Homo sapiens: one gene and its partners. The protein of the gene in region 1 interacts with the protein of each later gene in a biochemical or structural test. Each region holds a gene or a part of one and is shown in the gene's direction. Other genes may lie near its edges.

What was found.
Region 2: the proteins of DAPK1 (region 1) and TPD52L1 form a complex in vitro, tested with the Homo sapiens proteins (one large-scale study listed by BioGRID and IntAct).
Region 3: the proteins of DAPK1 (region 1) and RHBDD1 form a complex in vitro, tested with the Homo sapiens proteins (one large-scale study listed by BioGRID and IntAct).
Region 4: the proteins of DAPK1 (region 1) and GASK1B form a complex in vitro, tested with the Homo sapiens proteins (one large-scale study listed by BioGRID and IntAct).

Annotation. Positions count from the first base shown.
Region 1 is NC_000009.12:87,702,932-87,707,321, forward strand, and holds part of DAPK1 (death-associated protein kinase 1), read left to right. Parts: intron 1-97; coding exon 98-286; intron 287-3,200; coding exon 3,201-4,390. UniProt on the Homo sapiens protein: Calcium/calmodulin-dependent serine/threonine kinase involved in multiple cellular signaling pathways that trigger cell survival, apoptosis, and autophagy.
Region 2 is NC_000006.12:125,159,226-125,164,481, forward strand, and holds part of TPD52L1 (tumor protein D53), read left to right. Parts: intron 1-5,256.
Region 3 is NC_000002.12:226,833,732-226,839,562, forward strand, and holds the start of RHBDD1 (rhomboid-related protein 4), read left to right. Parts: upstream 1-2,322; 5' UTR 2,323-2,356; exon of another isoform or gene 2,357-4,341; 5' UTR 4,342-4,423; intron 4,424-5,677; 5' UTR 5,678-5,831. UniProt on the Homo sapiens protein: Intramembrane-cleaving serine protease that cleaves single transmembrane or multi-pass membrane proteins in the hydrophobic plane of the membrane, luminal loops and juxtamembrane regions.
Region 4 is NC_000004.12:158,165,817-158,171,072, reverse strand, and holds part of GASK1B (Golgi-associated kinase 1B), read left to right. Parts: coding exon 1-607; intron 608-725; coding exon of another isoform or gene 726-826; intron 827-5,256.

The DNA of each region.
Region 1 (4,390 bases):
CAAGGCGCCTGAATGAAAGGTGTCCTTTCCACTGTGGCTCTGCTCAGGGCACCCACAGCTGCAGGTGAGTTAACCTGTCTGGCCCTGCCCCCTCTAGGTCTGTCCTCCCATGACTCACCTGTGTGAGAAAATCATCTCCACGCTGCCTTCCTGGAGGAAGCTCAATGGACCCAACCAGCTGATGTCGCTGCAGCAGTTTGTGTACGACGTGCAGGACCAGCTGAACCCCCTGGCCAGCGAGGAGGACCTCAGGCGCATTGCTCAGCAGCTCCACAGCACAGGCGAGGTGAGCCCCTGGGAGCCCAGGCAGGGGGCCGTGAGAGGTGCCAGGGACTCAGCCTGTCCCAAATTCCAGCTCTTGGAAGTGGTGTGAGCCTGGGGAAGCAGTGTGGAAATGGTCCAGCTAACCTACAACATTTCCACACGTGTGACAAACACAGCCTCAAGTGACGCTCTGAACTGCAGTTCTCGGCTCACCTTAGGAGCTGTCATTTTGTCTTGTCGTGTTTTGCTTTTATTTCCAGAGTCTGTTAGTTTGGGAGTGCAGTGCCCACTGCCCTGGGTGACTGGGTCTCTCTTCACTCCCCCTGGGCACCAGGAACTTAATCTGCTACTCCTGGCAGCCTTCAGGATGGCTTCTTTGTATCAGCGTGGAGTCATCAGCTCCACACAGATCTCCTGGGTGGGAAAACAGTTGAGAAAAGGCAGTGAGGTGTCCTTGTGGAGGCAATGTCTGGAGATACAAAGACAGAGAACTCTGGTGCACAGATACACAGAGTAATCATAATTAAAGATGCACATTAAAAAACTCTAGCAAGCAATGCCCAGCAGAAATGATTGAGAATGGGAGGCTTTGCTCTGGTTCTGTGACATTGAGCACCAGGGCGCGGTTTGGAAACCCTGTTCTAATGGCATCATATGCCTGTCCCAGGAACGGGGGCAGTGCCTTCGTGTTTCTCCACCATGTGAAATTGGGAGCCTACATGAACTAGTGTGGGCCAAGAAGAGCGGTTCTGAATATTGCAACTAAAAGCAGCTCTGAGATTATTAAAAGCCAGATGCTTACCTCCCCAATCTCAGGTGCCAGGTCTGGCCCTATAGCCAGTTTGTATGAGTCATACAAATTTCTTGAAACTAAACCTGAATCCACAAGCCAGTGACCTTGAAAACTGGAGTCGCCGGGCAGTAATTTCATCAGCCTTTAAACTCCCAGTTAAATGGCCAGAGAATCTGCCAACTCATCCAGGAATACTTTAAAGTGATTGAATCCAAGGAAGAACACAGGTGAAGGACCACATCTTAGATGACAAGATACTGCTGGATGTAAAAAATGTGTCAATTCTAATTCTAAACTCCTTTGGCACAGGAGTCCCTTGCTTTCTAGTAGTAGACCAGCAACTTTCTAGATCATATCATATAGTCTCCTTTATTTGTCATTACATCCCTGCTTGCCCTTGAGAGTTTAGTAAGTAAATGAAGATGTAAAGAAGGAGGGTAATTAGGCAGCAGGAACTACATTGTGTGGCCCGACTTTGATTGGCCCCGGGCCTCCTCCAGACCTGCCTTCCGTATCTAATTTGCAGATCTTCAGAACTCCCCAGTGGCCCTTCTGACTCTGTTTTCTGGCCCAGGGTCCCACACTACGTTTAGCTGACTGTCTTAGCTCCCTGTTCTCCTCCACTATGGGACAGTTTCGTCTTTCCTGAGCCTGAGGCGATGAGCAGTGTTTAGGACCAAACTGCAAATGGTATTCCAGCAAATGCTGTATCAGGAACTAGATCAATATTGGCTCTGCCCTCCAGGAATTTTCAACCTAGGTTCAATTCTGAATAGACTCTTAGACAGGGGGCATCTTTCAGGTTTAAGCCAGACTGTGGGCAGGAAATTACTGTGTGGTCACCGGTGGGGTCAGAGCCTCCAAGTGAGGGAGTCCAGGGCGATGGCCACTCTCCAAGAAAGGAAGCAGAACTCTTCCATAAAGGGAAAGTTCCTTCTGTTTTTTGTCACTTTTTTTTCCTTTCTTTTTATTTTTTTAAGAAATAAACACAACCAAAAAGCTAAAGTCCCCTTGGGCCATCATCTCTGGTCTCACTCCTCTCTCCCCTTCTCGGAGGCCAACTATTATCATGGCAGCATATCCTTTCAGGCCTTTTCTATGTGTGTGTGTTAAACATTCACATAATGGTATAATAATAGAATGTTCTGACTCTTTTTTGAAAATGTTCTCAAGCCTTTAGAGAAGTTGCAAGGATAGTACCATGAACTCTCATATAGGCTACATTTATTTATTTTTTTAATTAATTAATTAATTTTTTTTTTTTTTTTTTTGAGATAGAGTCTCACTCTGTTGCCAAGGCTGGAGTGCAGTGGCACAATCTCGGCTCACTGCAGCCTCCGCCTCCTGGGTTCAAGTGATTCTGCCTCAGCCTACAGACACAAGCCATCACACCCAACTAAATTTTGTATTTTTAGAAGAGACAGGGTTTTACCATGTTGGCCAGGCTGGTCTCAAACTCCTGACCTCAAGTGATCCACCCGCCTCGGCCTCCCAAAGTGCTGGGATTACAGGCATGAGTCACGGTGCCCAGCCTACTACATTTAAGCTGATCAGTTGTTGACATTTTGCTACATTTGCTCGATTCCTTTCCTTTCTATTTATTTACTTATTTATTTTGCAGACATGATGACATTTCTTCCCTAAATAATTTAGCCTATATCTCCTAAGGAGAAGGATATTTTCCCACATAACCCAATATAATTGATGATTCCAGAAACATAACATTAATATAGTACTATGATTGAATATATCATCCTCATACAAGGGTTTGCCACTGGTCCCAATAATTTCTTTTAAAGCTATTTTTATTTATGTACTTATTTTGGGATTCAGAATCCAGTCTAAAATCACTCATTGCATTTGGTTGCCATCTCCCATTTTTTTTTCTTCTTTCATTTCGCTGGCCTTTTTGAAGACTTCAGGGGAGTTGTTTTTCAGAATCTCTATTCTGACATTTTCAAGCTGCTTTTCTCCACTCGGTGTTTGGTTTTTGAGACGCATCCACGTGGAATGGCCTTGGGTCACTCCTTAGAGCATCTGCTCAGCCTCTGTTGCCGGCATCAGGCCCTTTAGTGCTCTAAGTGGCTGGTGCACCTGGCCAGGGCTCTGTCCCTAAGCGTGACTTTCTGTTGTCCCCCCGCAGATCAACATCATGCAAAGTGAAACAGTTCAGGACGTGCTGCTCCTGGACCCCCGCTGGCTCTGCACAAACGTCCTGGGGAAGTTGCTGTCCGTGGAGACCCCACGGGCGCTGCACCACTACCGGGGCCGCTACACCGTGGAGGACATCCAGCGCCTGGTGCCCGACAGCGACGTGGAGGAGCTGCTGCAGATCCTCGATGCCATGGACATCTGCGCCCGGGACCTGAGCAGCGGGACCATGGTGGACGTCCCAGCCCTGATCAAGACAGACAACCTGCACCGCTCCTGGGCTGATGAGGAGGACGAGGTGATGGTGTATGGTGGCGTGCGCATCGTGCCCGTGGAACACCTCACCCCCTTCCCATGTGGCATCTTTCACAAGGTCCAGGTGAACCTGTGCCGGTGGATCCACCAGCAAAGCACAGAGGGCGACGCGGACATCCGCCTGTGGGTGAATGGCTGCAAGCTGGCCAACCGTGGGGCCGAGCTGCTGGTGCTGCTGGTCAACCACGGCCAGGGCATTGAGGTCCAGGTCCGCGGCCTGGAGACGGAGAAGATCAAGTGCTGCCTGCTGCTGGACTCGGTGTGCAGCACCATTGAGAACGTCATGGCCACCACGCTGCCAGGGCTCCTGACCGTGAAGCATTACCTGAGCCCCCAGCAGCTGCGGGAGCACCATGAGCCCGTCATGATCTACCAGCCACGGGACTTCTTCCGGGCACAGACTCTGAAGGAAACCTCACTGACCAACACCATGGGGGGGTACAAGGAAAGCTTCAGCAGCATCATGTGCTTCGGGTGTCACGACGTCTACTCACAGGCCAGCCTCGGCATGGACATCCATGCATCAGACCTGAACCTCCTCACTCGGAGGAAACTGAGTCGCCTGCTGGACCCGCCCGACCCCCTGGGGAAGGACTGGTGCCTTCTCGCCATGAACTTAGGCCTCCCTGACCTCGTGGCAAAGTACAACACCAGTAACGGGGCTCCCAAGGATTTCCTCCCCAGCCCCCTCCACGCCCTGCTGCGGGAATGGACCACCTACCCTGAGAGCACAGTGGGCACCCTCATGTCCAAACTGAGGGAGCTGGGTCGCCGGGATGCCGCAGACTTTTTGCTGAAGGCATCCTCTGTGTTCAAAATCAACCTGGATGGCAATGGCCAGGAGGCCTATGCCTCGAGCTGCAACAG
Region 2 (5,256 bases), on another chromosome or scaffold:
CTCTCAAGCCCTGCCACTGCTTTATCGACTAAATTTATATAATTCTAAATCCTTTGTTGTCATTTACACAGTGCTGTGAACATCTTCACTGGGAGTAGATTCCATCTCAAGAAACCACTCTTTGCTCATCCATAAGAAGCAACACCTCATTCATTCAAGTTTTAGCATGAGATTAAAATGTCATAAATTTAGTTACATCTTCAGGCTCCACTTCTGCTTCTTTTGCTGTTTCTACCACATCTGCACTTCATTTCCTCCACTGACATCTTGGACACCTCAAACTCATTCAGGAGGGTTGGAGTCCACATCTTCCAAACTCCTGTTAATGTTGATATTTTGACCACCTCCCATGAATTACGAATGTTCTTAATGACATCTAGAATGGTGAATCCTTTCCAGAATGTTTTCAATTTATTTTGCCTAGTTCCAACAAAAAAATCACTATCTATGGCAGCTGTTTTCTTATGAGATGTATTTCTTAAATAATACGACTTGAAAGTCAAAATTACTCCCTGATCCACAAGCTGAAGAGTGGATGTTGTGTTAGTAGACGTGTGAGCAATGTTAATCTCTTTGTACATCTCCATCAGAACTCTTGGGTGACCACGTATGATATTGTTTGGCTGTGTCCCCACCCAAATCTCATCTTGAATTGTAGCTCCCATAATTCCCACATGTCATGGGAGGGAGCCATTGGGAGGTAATTGAATCATAGGTGCCGGTCTTTCCCATGCTGTTCTCATGATAGCAAGTCTCACGAGACATGATGGTTTTATAAAGGGGAGTTCCCCTGAGTATGTCCTCTTGCCTGCCACCATGTGAGATGTGCCTTCCATCATGATTGTGAGGCCTCCCCAGCCATGCGGAACTGTGAGTCCATTAAACCTCTTTTTCTTTACAAATTTCCTAGTCTCGGGTATGTCTTTATTAGCAGCATAAGAATGGACTAATACAGGTGTGTTATCAACCAGAAGTAATATTCAGAAAGAAATATTTTTTTTCTGAGCAGTAGTTCTTAATAGTGGACTTAAAATATTCAAGAAACCATATTGTAAACAGTTACCCAGGCTTTGTTATTCTATTTATAGAGCACATTTTCTAAATCTATAGATTTAGAATAATTATTTATTTATTTGTATTTGCATTTTCATAGATGAAAGGTCTTGCTCGGTTGCCTAGGCTGAAGTACAGTGGGATCATCATAGCTCACTGACACCTTGAACTCCTGGGCTCAAGCAATCCTCCTGCCTTGGCCTCACAAAGTGTTGGGATTACAGTCATGAGCCACTGCATCTGGTTACAGTTAGAATAATTCATAAGGGCCTTAGAACTTTTTGAATAGTAAGTGAGCATGTAACTTAAAGTCACCAGCTACATTAGCCCCTAACAAGAGAGTCAGCCTGTACTTTGAAGTTTTGAAGCCAAGCATCGACTCCTCCTCTCTAGCTATAAAAGTCCTAGCTGACATCTTCTTCCAGTGTAAGGCTGTTTCATCTATATGAAAATGTGTTGTTTAGTTTAGCCACTTTCATCAACTATCTTAGCCAGATCTTCTGGAGAGCTTGCTGCAGCTTTGGCAACAGCCCTTGCTGCTTCACCTTGCACTTTTATGTTACAGAGATGACTTTTTTTTTTTTTTTTTTTGAGATGGAGTCTTGCTCTGTCACCCAGGCTGGAGTGCAGTGGCACGATCTTGGCTCACTGCAACCTTCACCTCCTGGGTTCAAGCAAATTCTCCTGCCTCCGCTTCCTGAATAGCAGGGATTACAGGTGCGTGCCACCACGCCCTGCTAATTTTTGTGTTTTTAGTAGAGATGGGGTTTCACCATGTTGTCCAGGCTGGTCTGGAACTCCTGACCTAAGGTGATCCACCTGCCTCAGCCTCCCAAAGTGCTGGGATTACAGGCATGAGCCACCATGCCAGGCCTGAGATGACTTCTTTCCTTAAACCTCATGAACAAATCTCTGCTAGCTTCCAACTTTTGTTGCACAGCTTTCTCATTTCTCTCAGCCTTCATAAATTGAAGAGACTTAGGACCTTCTCTGGATTAGATTTTCACTTAAAGAAATGTTGTGGCTGGTTTGATCTATCCAGACCACTCAAACTTTCTCCCTATCAGCAATTAGTCTATTTCACTTTCTTATCATTTGTGTGTTCAGTGGAATAGCATGCTACGTTTCTTTCAAGAACTTTTCCTTCACATTCACAACTTGAATCAAGAGGCCTGCTTTTGATCTATCTTGGCTTTCACTGTGCCTTCCTTGCTAAGTTTAATCATTTCTAGCTTTTGACTTAAGGTGAGAGATTTGTGTCTCTATGTTTCACTTGAATACTTAGAGACTATTATAGGGTTAATTGGCATACTATCAATATTGTTGTGTCTCAGAGAGTGGAGAGGGCCAGGGACAGGGAGAGAGATAGGGAAATGGGTGGCTGGTGGAGCAGTCAGAACACACACAGGATTTACTGGTTAAGGTCACCATCTTATATGGGCATAGTTCATGGTTCTCCAAAACAATTCTGATGGTAACATCAAAGATCACCAATCACAGATCACCATAACCGATTTAATAATAATGGAAAAGTTTGAAATATTGTGAGAGTTACTAAAATGTGACACAGAGACATGACATGAGCCCATGTTGGAAAAATGGCACCAATAGACTTGCACAACCTGGGGTTGCCACAAACCTTCAATTTGTAAAAATAATATCTGTGAGGTACAATAAAGTGAAGTGCAGTGAGGTATGTCTCTAACTATTAAATTATCCAAGGAAAAAATTATTTTGCATTTTATGTTTCATATTTAAAATTTTGTATTGAAGTTTAGGCAATATAATAATAAACCTCAAACTATGGAAGCAAGCTGTTATATATTTTGATTTATGATTTTTAAGAGTATTATTAAGACTATTCATACAATTTTCAAAGTTACCTCCTGTAGTTTTGTTTCCTGTTTAAGTAAAGGTTTTGAAATAGGTGATGATGCATATTTTAGGTGAAGTCAGTCATTTGCAACAAATCATATACCACTGTTTTATTTTAAATTATTTTAAAATCTAATTATACAAATGGCAGCTGTTGTAGTAGATGGGAACATATTTTGAATTGCCTTCCCTGTTATACACCTTATTAATTATCTGGGTAGGCAGAATCTGAGAATTTCTTCAAAAACTTATAAGCAAAGGAGTCCATTTTTGTGGCCTATAAGAAGATGTGCTACTTAGTAATTTATAGTAAATAATAAACAAATACTTCAGCAGATATTGATTCATTAAATATTTTAATAAATACTTATTGATTACTGCAGTAATAGCAAATATTTGACAAGCACATACTATTGGGAGGGAAAAGGGCATAGTGATTAAGATCCCAGGATGAAGGTAAACTGCCTGGATTTTAATTCTGACATGTTACTTACCATTAATATGACCATGAACAAGTTATTCATTTCACTCAATCTTGGTTTCTACATATGCAAAGTGAAGATAGTAATAGCTCCAATATCATAGGATTGTTATGGGGATTTAACATGTTAATACAAGCAAAGTGCTTAAAGCAGGGCCTAGCACATGGTAAGTAGTATATAAATGTTTGCTGTTGCTTTTATTAGCATATGCTGAAAACTTTGCATCCATTATTTTATCAAAACCTTATAATAACATCATGAGGTAGATACCTTTACTTTTAACTCATTTTATAAACAGGGAACTACGAGTCAGAAAAATTAAATGAAGAAGACAGGATTCAACTCCAAGTTTAATTGAGTCCAGAGAATGAGCTTAACTACTATACTGCACTGTGCCTTAATGTGTGCTGTGCCACACGTGCAAAGGGGAAGCTAAGATGAACTTGACATGGTGTCATCTTTTCAGGAGGATAGGCAAAAAAGAGTTGAGAGTCGTTCCTGTGGGTTAACACCTAGAACTAATGAGAGGACATATTTCCATCCCAATGGGATTTTTTGAGTGCTAATGTGCTAATTAGAGCTAATTCACATTGAGGGTGATAATAGCAATAACATTTTAGTGTTTTTACAAATGTCAAATACCATGGCATGCACTTTTTTAAAAAGCATGTTATTTAGTCAGGTGCAGTGGCTCCTGGTACTTTGGGAGGCCAAGACGGGAGGATCACTTGAGCCCAGGAGTTCAAGACCAGCCCAGACAACATAGCAAAACCCTGCTTCTACAAAAAATAAAGAAGTAAATTGGGCATGGTGATGCATGCATGTATTCCCAGCTACTTGGGAGGCTGAGGTGGGAGGATTGCTTGAGCCCAGGAGTTTGAGGTTGCAGTGAGCTATGATTGCATCATTGCACTCTAGCCTGGGCTGGACAAAGTGACACCCTGTCTAAAAAAAAAAAAAAAGAACAAAAACAAAAAACTCCAAACATGTTATTTAATAAGTACAACAGGCCGGGCGTGGTGGCTTATACCTGTAATCTCAGCATTTTGGGAGCCTGAGGTGGGCGGATCACCTGAGGTCAGGAGCTCAAGACCAGCCTGATCAACATCGTGAAACCCCCTCTCTACTAAAAATACAAAAATTAGCTGGCGGGCACCTGTAATCCCAGCTACTTGGGAGGCTGAAGCAGGAGAATCACTTGAACTTGGGAGGCAGAAGTTGCAGTGAGCCGAGATCATGTCATTACACTCCAGCCTGGGTGACAGAGTGACACTCTGTCTCAAAAAAAAAAAAAAAGAAAACAAAAGAAAAAAACCAATAATAATAACAAACTCACAAGGAAGGTAACATTTTGGTTTTACAGATGATGAAACTGAATGACAGACTAGTTACACAACATTCTCCAACTCATACAACTTGGAAGTGTTGGAGTTGGGATTTGAAATCAGAAAGTTTGACTTCATATCTTGAGATTTCAATTACCATTCTATAGGTACTTTGTATGCACAAGCAGTCAGTGTGCAAAGTTTTAAATAATGGTTTTGCTTTATTTTCTATATGATCAAAGAGGCTTTAAACGGGCAGAATTTAATTGTACAGTTCATTTCATATGTGGGCAGGGTCTAAGTCTGGGAATATGAATGGGACTGGAGATCTTTAAGAGTAAGCCTTGCGACATGTCAAGTTGCGGGTGGAGGATGCTCATTTATCAACAGCTTGCTATTTTTGTTCTGTTTTCAAGATGAAGAATTCTATAAAAATCACATGACATGTGATTCTTAAACCAATACAGAATTTTATCACCAGCTCAAACAAAAGTCTGTTCAGATATGTTATTCCACTTGGT
Region 3 (5,831 bases), on another chromosome or scaffold:
TCTTCTGGCACTGATTCTTTGGTATTTTTAAGCCTTGCTCAGTGAAAGGATGCTGCTGCTGATTGCTTCATATGTTCATATTTAAGATATACAATTATTATCCAAGTGATATTTGTCAATTGAAATGGGATATGAGCATGTTACAACATGCTCATTTCAACAGAAACTTTTAAAAAACCCAGTCTGCTCAACAAATCACGTAGGACAAAAGAGAAGGTCATTTTTTAAAAGGTAGATATTTTTTTCTATCTGTTAAATGTCTTTTACCCCTTAAATGTCTATGAAAATTTTCACTGATATTTGAAACAGAACATAATTACCTAAGAATATTCTTAATCCGTATATATTTCTTACATTTTAACGAAATTATTGAATTGAGACTTCTTGATTTGTGGCTCCCTTAAAATCACCTCTGCATTTGATGTATTATACGGACAAGAAAATGATGCAATTATAGAAAGATGTAGAGAGTGATGGAGAATAGAAGATAAGATTAATATTAATTGAATGGATTCATATGATTGTGGTTCAGAAGGATAAATGAGGACTTCTTCCTTTTGAGAAATTACACATTTCCCCCTCTAGGGAAATACAGAAAATACCTCTATAGGCAATTTACTTTTCCCCGCATTCATTTGACTTTTCATGTCCAGAAATGCAGTTTCTCATTGTCAGTTGAGCTTTTGGAGGAGTATATTGTTTTTCTAGGAAAGAGGTAACTTATGAGTCTTAATGAACACGTACAATTTGCTAAGAATCTTCTTTGTCACTTGAAAGTCATATGTACACCCACACCTATGCATGAGCCACATTTTCACTTAAATTTCAAACTCCAAAATAAATATTTCTATGAAGAGTTTTAATACACAATGGCAAAAGATAAACTCTTCTGGTTTAGGCAGTTTTTGTTTTAGCAGACTATCTAAACACAGCTGCTACAACTTCCAATAAACAAAGAGTAACACTAAACCACCTGTATTCGGATACTCGGATTCCTTCTTGGAAAAAGAGCATCTTTACCCTAGCTATCAGAAAATTCCATACCAAATAGTAAGATTTTTTTTTTTTGAGATAGAGTCATGCTCTGTCGCCCAGGCTGGAGTGCATGGACGCGATCTCACTGCAACCTCTGCCTCCCGGGTTCAAGGATTCCCCTGCCTCAGCCTCCCGAGTAGCCGGGATTACAGGCGCCCGCAACCATGCCTGGCTAATTTTTGTATTTTTAGTAGAGACAGGGTTTCGCCATGTTGGCCAGGCTGGTTTTGAATTCCTGACCTCCGGTGATCCGCCCGCCTTAGCCTCCCAAAGTGCTGGGATTACAGGCGTGGGCCACCGCGCCAGGCCTGTTGTTGTTTTTTAAATAGAGACAAGGTCTCACTATGTTGTCCAGGCTGGTCTCAAACTCCTGAGCTCAAGCGATCCTCCTGCCTCGACCTCCCAAAGTGCGGGGATTACAGGCGTGAGTTACCGCGCCCGGCTGTAAGATAGTTTTTTCATATCCTATTAAATATATATAGCATTGCAACATTTAACTTAGCCTAACTCCTACAGCTAAACATAAAACTTGCTCCCGAGTAGCAAACAATTAAAATGGTATCAAATTATGTATTAATCGAAATTCTATTAACTGAAATATGAAACACCTAAAGCCCTCAAAATGGGCAAACGTTGCGTGGTGCAGTCCCAGACCCAAGCTTCTGGGAGTGAAAGGTGCACCCGCGACCTTGCCTTGCTGGCTGGCTCTGGGACTCTGCGATAAGCCGCCCTCCGGTTGTCTGCGATAGCTCCTGAAGCAGGAGAGTGTCTTTCCCACCCTCCGCCTAACAGGCGGTATCTGACCCTTCCAGGCAGCAGCTCCCCAGCCTCCGGCTGCGCTGGGGCCCGGAAGGACGAAGCTTCCCGGCAGAGAACCTGGGCAGAGGCGTCCGTTGGGTAGGCGGCCGCGACCCGCTCGCTGCTTCTCCCCTAGTCTTCGGGTCCCTTGAACGCAGGTCGCTTGTTTGCCTTACGCGTAGTCAGCGGCCAGTGGCTATTTATGGCAGTAAGGAATATTATCCACATTTCACATGGAGCTTAGAGGACAGGGCGAGGGTCCACACTCTCCTTACTGCGCTCTGCCGCGGTCCTGCCCCGCTGTGCCCTCGCGGCCCCCTTAGAGCCACTGCCGGCGCACGCGGTCTGCAGACAGCAGAGCGCGGGCGCGCACAACTAAGCATGCGCCGCGGCCGAGCCGTCCGCTTTAAGGCCCTCCCCTCCCGCACCCGGCCCCAGGAACCCGGGGCGCCCCGGATCGGGAACGTGCGTGATGACGCACGTGCGCGCGAAGACGTGGGGACGCAGGCGGGTCGTAGAGAGCGTGAGTTTCCGCGTCTGTTTGGTCCGGCTGCTGTCGTTGGTTGTGAGCGGCATCTCTCGCCGTTTCCCCGGGCTGCGGGAGCTGGCGGCCGGGCTGGGGCTGCTGGGCGGAGGTCGGCGCCTCCCGGGGGGCTAGGGCGAGGGAGGCATGGCGGGGCTGGAGGCACAGCCTCCCCGTCCGGGGCAAGTCCGAGAGCGGGGAGGGCGTTTCCTGGGGTAACTCCACCTGGGGTCTTGTCGAAGTTGCCGCATCTCCGCCGGACCGCACGGGAACGACGTGCCCACACTCGGAGGAAGGGGTTGGCGCTGAGCGAGTTTAAAGGGTTCCTTTTGAAAGCAGGAAGTTTGAAGTGACGTTGCATCAGCAACAGAGCATGCAGTTTCAGGTGCTCTCGGGACAGCTTTCAGTTTCTCAGAACAAGTCTAAGCCTCACCGCAGTAATAACTTTTATTAGAGGACAAAAAATCCGCCAAAGTAAACCCTTTCTGTCCAACCCCTAAAAACCTTTGGATAAACGTTTACAAGAAACGGATCACAGCCTTATTTGTTTTTCTAAACTGAGCATAAACTCTTTTGAAGACTCAGCGTTACTGTCAAAATGAATGAGTGCCTGCCTAGTTATGATTCAATTATCGAGGTGTTTGGGTCTCTGCAGTACACTCAGTGACTCCCAGGCTTTTCTTTTTTCTCTTTGAAATTGCTTATTAGAAGGCTTTATCTAATTTCTCACAGTTGTGTGTCTTTTTGAGGTAGTTCTAATAAACTTTAAAGGCTTCTGGTTTGCTGCAGGCCTGCCGTCGCTGTGGAAAGCAAGTATTCTTTCAAAGAAGAATAGAAGTGCATTGGTTTCTAAATAATCCCAGGACGCTAGGATCAGCATCACTTGGGAACTTCTTGGAAATGCACATTTTGGGGTCTTATCCCAAACTTACTGAATCAGAAATATATTTTAACAAGCCTTCCAGTTGATACCAATGCACCTGGACGCTAAAGTTTGAGAATTAATGGCGTAGTGATAACACCCATTGTGGAATCACATATAATGGAATTTGAATTGAAGTAATTCCTAGATGGAAAAACTTGGACATGTTACCTCACAGGGCTGGAATATGAAGATGCAAGAAAAATGTTTAACACAAAACACATAGAAAACCCTCAAAGATGTTATTAAGTAACTTATTAGAACTGCATAAAATAAGTACATAGTTTGTGCTGGAAGGATTCTTCAGCGGGGTAGATATGAGCTGTAGCGCATGGATATTGGGACTGCTGCTTAGAGGGTATTTTGTTTACCTCGGGATTCTCAATTCTGTGTAGTCAAGGTTGTTGGATGCAGGATATTCAGTTAAAAGTTAAAGCAGTGCATACTAATGCTATTGTGGTTGTAGGATTTTTAAGAATAGCATTAGTATTTATGTTGAAGAGTAGTTTTTAATTCTTTGGCCTTCTGATCTCTTCAGCTTTGTTTGGAGACAGTCTCTTTCTGCCACCCAGGCTGGAGTGCAATGGTGCAATCTTGGATCACTGTAACCGCTGCCTCCAGGGTTCAAACGATTCTCCTGCCTCAGCTTCCCAGGTAGCTGGGATTACAGGCGTCTGCCACCACGCCCAGCTAATTTTTGTATTTTTAGTAGAGACGGTTTCACCACGTTTGCCAAGCTGGTCCCGAACTCCTGACCTCAGGTAATCCACCTGCCTCGTCTTCAGTTTAGTTATACCTTCTTTGACCCAGAATTTGGTAAAGACCAGAGGTAAGCACTAGTTTTAGAGTTGAGAATTATTGTAACATAGTGACTTGCAAGCGAAAGCCAAGGCTGAATATGTTTCTGTCCTTATCTTTGTTTCCCATATGTCGTACAACTCCACGGTAGCAAAGATCTCATGTCTACTCTAGATACCTCCATTTTCAGGAAGGATCACAGGAGTGCCCTCAACCTGCTGTGTTTTTTAGATGCAGTATTTTCTTACAACTTTATCTCTTTCAGGGGTCCATTGTAGGGGGAGAAAGAAATATTCAGGATTTAAAGCAGCTGCTCTAAAGGCTACATTCACTGCAATGTTGAGAAGGTCAGTGCCAAACCGTGGCCTACACATGTCGTTTTGATGAGAGCACGCTGCTCCCAAGGCTATACCATGGCTCCTGGATATTGAGAGAGTTTTCAGATAAACATAAGTCACTTTGAATGGATTATTCTGGAAATAATTTCGTTAGCTCTGCCACCAAATTGGCACTGCCCCATCATGAAATGTTTATTTTTCGAAGGCATTAAATATTTTTTTTTGTTCTCCTCATCGGAGAGGCAGATCGCTATCTGTGGTTTTAGGTCAGACAAGCCCTGCTCTGAATCTTGCCTCTGCTACTTAGTGATTGTGTACATTAGACAAATTAACATCCTCCCCACTTGAATTTCTGTAAAGTAGGAGTCATAGGATGTGCTACTTCAGGCCATTGAATTAAATGAAATAACGCATAAAACACGTCCACCTTGTTTTAGGCACAGAGGCTCAGTAAATGTTGTGTGTCGGACAAAGGGAAAAAAGGTATTTGTTGTCTCAAACCTAACTTTATGCCATTCATTTTATAATATTTTTATAAATGAGGTAATTTTATTACCTAACTGCACTGCTTTTCTTTTTAACCATAAAATGCTGAAATGGAGTCAAAGCTTTCATATTATTGTGAATGAGAAAAAACAAACACTTGAAAAAAGTTGAAACTTTAACGTGAAAAAACACCATCTTCAGTTTTATCACTGTAACAGAGCAACTTGTAGAAATTGTTTTGGATGTTTACAGCAAGGTAAACATCCAAAGGTCAGGGGATGAGTAATAAAGTATCTTCTGTTAGTTAATGGGGACAGTCAGCTAGAGAAGGGGACACTGTTACAGGAAATGAGACCTCGTTGAAGGTATGCATCAAAGGATGAGAAAATGCTGTTAGCCCTGAAATTGCTAATATTTTTTTAAAACACGAATTCTTAATAGCAAAGTGAAAAGTTTTACATTACATTTTTTAATAAGGGATAACAAAATCTCTTACATGTATTTCTGTGTGTTTATATTGTATATGAATGTATGAGTGCAGAAAATACTTGACTCACACTAGGTCATAATTTTATTTGTCAGTATATTGGAATATGGGGGTGGGGACCAAGTATAAAAGGAAATTTTCTATATATGTAAAATTAGATACGTACATGTATATGTAAATGTTCTTTAAAAAAACTATTAAAAACGGAAGCGATTCTTTAAAAGGTAGATTTCCTTTTATGTTGCAGTCATAGCCACGTAAGCAATGGACCTCATATTTTTTTTCAACAGGGAGCCTCTTAAACAGAATCTTACCTGTAAAACTCAGGAGCCGAGAAGCTTTAAGAACAGTGAGGTTGAAGGGCACAGGCTCTTGGTCCTTGGCAGCGATATTAGGAGGCGTGCCTAGGGAACCTCGGATTCCGGGGAGCTGGACGTGAAACTC
Region 4 (5,256 bases), on another chromosome or scaffold:
CTGCAGCCCAATGTGGTGTACATTACCCTACGCTCCAAGCGCAGCAAGCCGGCCAATATCCGTGGCACCGTGAAGCCCAAGCGCAGGAAAAAGCATGCAGTGGCATCGGCTGCCCCAGGGCAGGAGGCTTTGGTCGGACCATCCCTTCAGCCGCAGGAAGCGGCAAGGGAAGCTGATGCTGTAGCACCTGGGTACGCTCAGGGAGCAAACCTGGTTAAGATTGGAGAGCGACCCTGGAGGTTGGTGCGGGGTCCGGGAGTGCGAGCCGGGGGCCCAGACTTCCTGCAGCCCAGCTCCAGGGAGAGCAACATTAGGATCTACAGCGAGAGCGCCCCCTCCTGGCTGAGCAAAGATGACATCCGAAGAATGCGACTCTTGGCGGACAGCGCAGTGGCAGGGCTCCGGCCTGTGTCCTCTAGGAGCGGAGCCCGTTTGCTGGTGCTGGAGGGGGGCGCACCTGGCGCTGTGCTCCGCTGTGGCCCTAGCCCCTGTGGGCTTCTCAAGCAGCCCTTGGACATGAGTGAGGTGTTTGCCTTCCACCTAGACAGGATCCTGGGGCTCAACAGGACCCTGCCGTCTGTGAGCAGGAAAGCAGAGTTCATCCAAGGTAACAGATTCACATGCTTCGTTATTTGCAGCTGTTGGGGATTCTGGTTCATTTTCTTTTTTCCCTCACTCTCTTTTTCTAAATGATTTTTCTCCACCCACGGTTCACATTTGGACAGCAGCAGCAGCAGCGTGTCTTTCCATGCGCTTGGCATTCTTTATTTTCCCAGCCTGGGAGGATATGAGAGTTCCAGGGAAATGCTGTATTGGACATGCAAGAGTAAGCCCATACTGTATAATCTTTGCTCTCCATTTCCCTCGCTTCACTTCCCAGTGGCTTATTAAATCTAATTAAAGCCAACGGCAATTTGCATGATGAGGAGAGGAAGCTAGGCTGGAGGCAAAGAACTTGCTGACAGTCAGGCATACTATTAAATAGGTTACTATGGGAGGAAGTAGAAGTTTTTAAAAGTAAGGGGGAAGCGGGTTATCGTTCTTGAGCAGATGGAATCTTCTTAAGCCGCGCAGAGCCAGACCATGTTAGGTTTAACCCCCCCTTTTTTTTTCAATGGATTTAACCTCTTTATTTAACAAATAAAAAGAATGAGCAAAAATTGGTGATTTGTTCAGTATGTATACTAACTAGCTGTGTGGTTTTATCAAGCCCCTGACTATGATCTATTGAGTCTGTCTTTCAAGATTCTCCCGTCTTGGGTGACAAACATTTTGGCAGGTTCTAACACATGTAGCCAGTTACTGCAGTTGCCAGCAAAAGGACTGGTCTGCGGTCATGCCCATGCCATATAAAGGATATTCTCTGAATATTAAAGCTATTCCAGGGCTCGAATACAAAGTACAGTGAGTCAGTGGCTTATGTTTGAATGCAGAATGATGCCAGAAGTTACAACTTTGAATCCAGATTGGCCCAAGAGGCTAAAATGTACCCCAAAGAGATTATAAGCTGAAAGGATACTTAACTTTCTCCATGTTACCATGAAATTTAGCATTTCAGTGAGGTTCCCAGGGAGCCTAGAATGGAATGGATTAAAATCCCTGGGAGTGGCTGAGACCCAACTGCATTTCCAATGGCTTTAGCATTATAATTTCATTTTAAAATGGATACCCCTGGAAGTACCAGTGATTTACTTAGAAAAATTGGACATTCCCTACTGATGGTGGTTCTTGTCTAAGTGCTCCAGATTCACAGGTATGCTTTGATGTCTCAAGTTTATAAAGCAGTCCACCACAGTTATGCCAATGTAAGAAACCTTCTCAAACATTTAATCTAATGTTGATAAAAATGAATTTTTATTGGGTGCCCACAATTTGCTAAGGATTATACAAATTGATTCATATGTGTTGGCTCCTAGAATTTTCATAACAATGCTATGAAGTGGGGACTATTATTATTTCCATTTAGTAGATGAGAAAATTGAGGCTTATTGAGACAAAGTAATTGGCCTCAACTCCCACAGCTAGTAGGTGGCTAAGCTGGGTTTTGACTATAGACCCAGCAAACTTCAGAACATAACTTCTTAGCCACTGGACTTAGGTGAATATGTAACTTATTATCCAAACTGGAACCGTGTGGCGTGAAAGGAGATGCTGGTGGGCATTGGGACAACAGGCCCACACTGACTGTTCTGAGCAGAGTAGAGCACAGGATCCCCCTTGTTATGCTGAAATCCCATTCATTTTCATGTCATAAAGGCCCCAGAGAGGAGAAGATGAACTCCTGTGTATATCCTGAGGCAGAGTTCTCTGATATGTCCTTTGAGCTTCCCTTAGACGCTCTTAGACTACTGTATTGGGAGAATGCAGTAGTGGCTAAGAGCCTGGGCCGTGGAGTTGGACTGACTAGGTTTGAACTTACCAATCATACGACTTGGAAATGTTGCCATGTCTCTTTATGCCTCAGTTTCCTCAGCTGTAAAATGACAATACTGCCTACCATATGAGATTGTTGTTAGTTAATACAGGGAAAACACTTAGAACCAGTATTTGCCACAAGATAAACCTTCAATAAATATTGGTTATTATTATTATTATTGTACCAAGCACATGAGGTACCAAGTTCATTGAATTCCTCACATAATCTCCAAGTCTCATGTGTTACTTCGTTACGTGATAGGACTATGACTAAAACTGCTCAATTAAACTTTTGTAATCCCAATCCCTCTTAGATATTTAATTCTTTGCTCTGAATTTCCAGCATCTTTGAGAACAAAAATTCATTTGAAGGCGGGGTTTATGATCTCAATATAGCCTGGATATTTCTCTCTCCTTTCATATGGTAGTGGTGATGGAAATAAACTAATAAAGCTATACTAATATGACTCAATTTAATAAATAAAATCCCTAAGATTATATCTCAAACAACATTCTGTCTTTGATACCTTCTTCTACTTAGTCATTTAGAGTCACAAAGTCAGGCCAGTTTCTCCAGGGGCTCATGAAATGATTTCATATAGTTATGAATACTCTACACAATGTAATTCTACTCAAGCAGACTGTTACAGTGTTGCAAAGTACATAAATAGACCACTTCTGGTCATGGTATAGACAGCATTAGGTTCTCAGTATCTCTACCCATCCACCTATTTCTAGTCTTTTTCTCACTGTGTCTTTCTTCCCTGATTTCCACGGAAGCGTGTAGCTTTCTTCTAGGGCACTGCTATTCTGTTGGTCAGAGTTTGACTTTATTTGAGCCTTGCAGCCCACCCAGGGAGGCAACAGATCTTACCTAGTTACCCAGCATCTTTTTCAGCTTGCTCTATATCATTATATTATATAATACATATTTGTATTATAATCATTTATTTAATCATCTGTTCCTTCCCACTACTCTCTAGGTCAGTGAAGGCAAAGATACTTCCTGTTTTCTTTAGAATTGCATTTCTGGATCTTAGCAGAGAGTCTGGCCCATAGTAGATGCTCAATAAATATTTTGAATGAATGAAGGAATGCGTTCATTGCTTGTTCCTTGGACTCTAAACAGTAAAACTATACTGGAAGCCACCAGCTTCTAATACTTAGGACGTGTAATAACATTTTTAGTCTTAAGTCCAGGCTGGGCTTTCTCCTGGAGGATCTCATAAGGAATTCATTGTGGAGGTAATAAAAAATGTTTTTGGTAGCCTCCTTACAATGCAAATGAAAGGTTTACAGGGCTTATTCTTGTGAGAACTATCAGTGTGGTGTGTTGGCATCACACTCTAGTGTAATTCGATAATGAGTTTTCTGCAGGAGGAACAATAGGATTTAATTTAGGTATATATTTCTCTGATGACCTGGCTTGGTCTGGGAGTAGATCTTTTAATATTTGAGAGAGTGAGAAGCCAGCAAAGCCTGTAAGTAATCTACCCTAAATGTTGTTTCTGTTCTGACTTTTGATTAATGTTTATAAAAATAAATTTATATCTGGCACCAAGAAAGTGGTTAGTCTGTGTTGCAAGTTGAATTTAGATATTTAAGTTGTCTTAGTTAATTTTTCTGAGAATCCTATGCAGTAGACTTTTTAAACCTCATTTTAGAGATGAAAGAAAGGCAAGAAGACTGCTCAAGGTCATGTGATGAGTTAGTTGTCCAGCAAAAATTTTTGTCTTCTAACTTCCAGTCTTTTCTCTTTTCATAAATCTGCGTCCCTCAACAAATCCTTTAGGGGGCCCTAAGGTACATCGTCTTTCTCTATCACCACAGCCTACTAGAAAGTTTAGTTATAAATAACTAAATATATAAATATAATGAAACAGATGACTTATACACTGATGCACAGATATAGCCATGGGAACCTCCTTTTTTTCCTCAAGGAGACAAAAAAACCTTAACCATGGCTAAGAGTTATTGAGTTTTCCTAGATATATATACCAGGTACCATTCTAAGTACTGTGCTTGCATTATTTCATTAAATCCTCATACAAATTCTACCAGCTGCACCCAGATGTCATTATGCCTGGGGACTCTTACAAACATTTAACAAATATGGAAGTTGAGGCCCAAAGTAATTATGAAATGGATATGTGATGTGAAAAGGGAGGTGTAAGAAGGAATCAAATGCTGTGATTTGAATGATCTGCCTGCCCCAGCCTTTCAGATAAAGCTCTCTGTTGATTTAATCAAATGACAAAGAGTTCCAATTATAAAGCTCATCTTTAGGTTTTTTCTAAATTGGCAGGACTGGTGTGGGTGATCCAATCAGCTAGCTCAGTTTAATCTGGGACAAGATCTTGATTGTGTGACTTGATGAGTTCTAGATGATTCTTCTTAAATACAAAAAGATGTGTGAAATTAGTGGACTTACTGGTATTGTACTTTATAACAGACTATTTTCTGACAGGTTATGCTCCAAGATATCCTAGAAAATGAGAAGGGTGCACTTGAGGAAGGGCAAGATAGTAATTAATTAGGCAGAGCCAGCAGTGTGCCACAATATAAGATCCAGCAGTTACCACTGGAGCAGATTTTCGTCCTGTATGTTTCTGTGTAGGAAGTCTTAAAATGAATTAAAATATAGCATCAAAGGGCCTTAAAATGTTTGTGTGCAATAATGAAGTATTTTTCAATTGTGACAAAGAATCTAGTGTGATGTATCACATAGTATACACACTGTATTTGATGTGTGTTGTCTATTATACATACCTAACAATTTTACATAGCAGATATTACTCTTATTTTAAATAGGGGAATCCTGAGGCTCAGTGAGCTTATAAA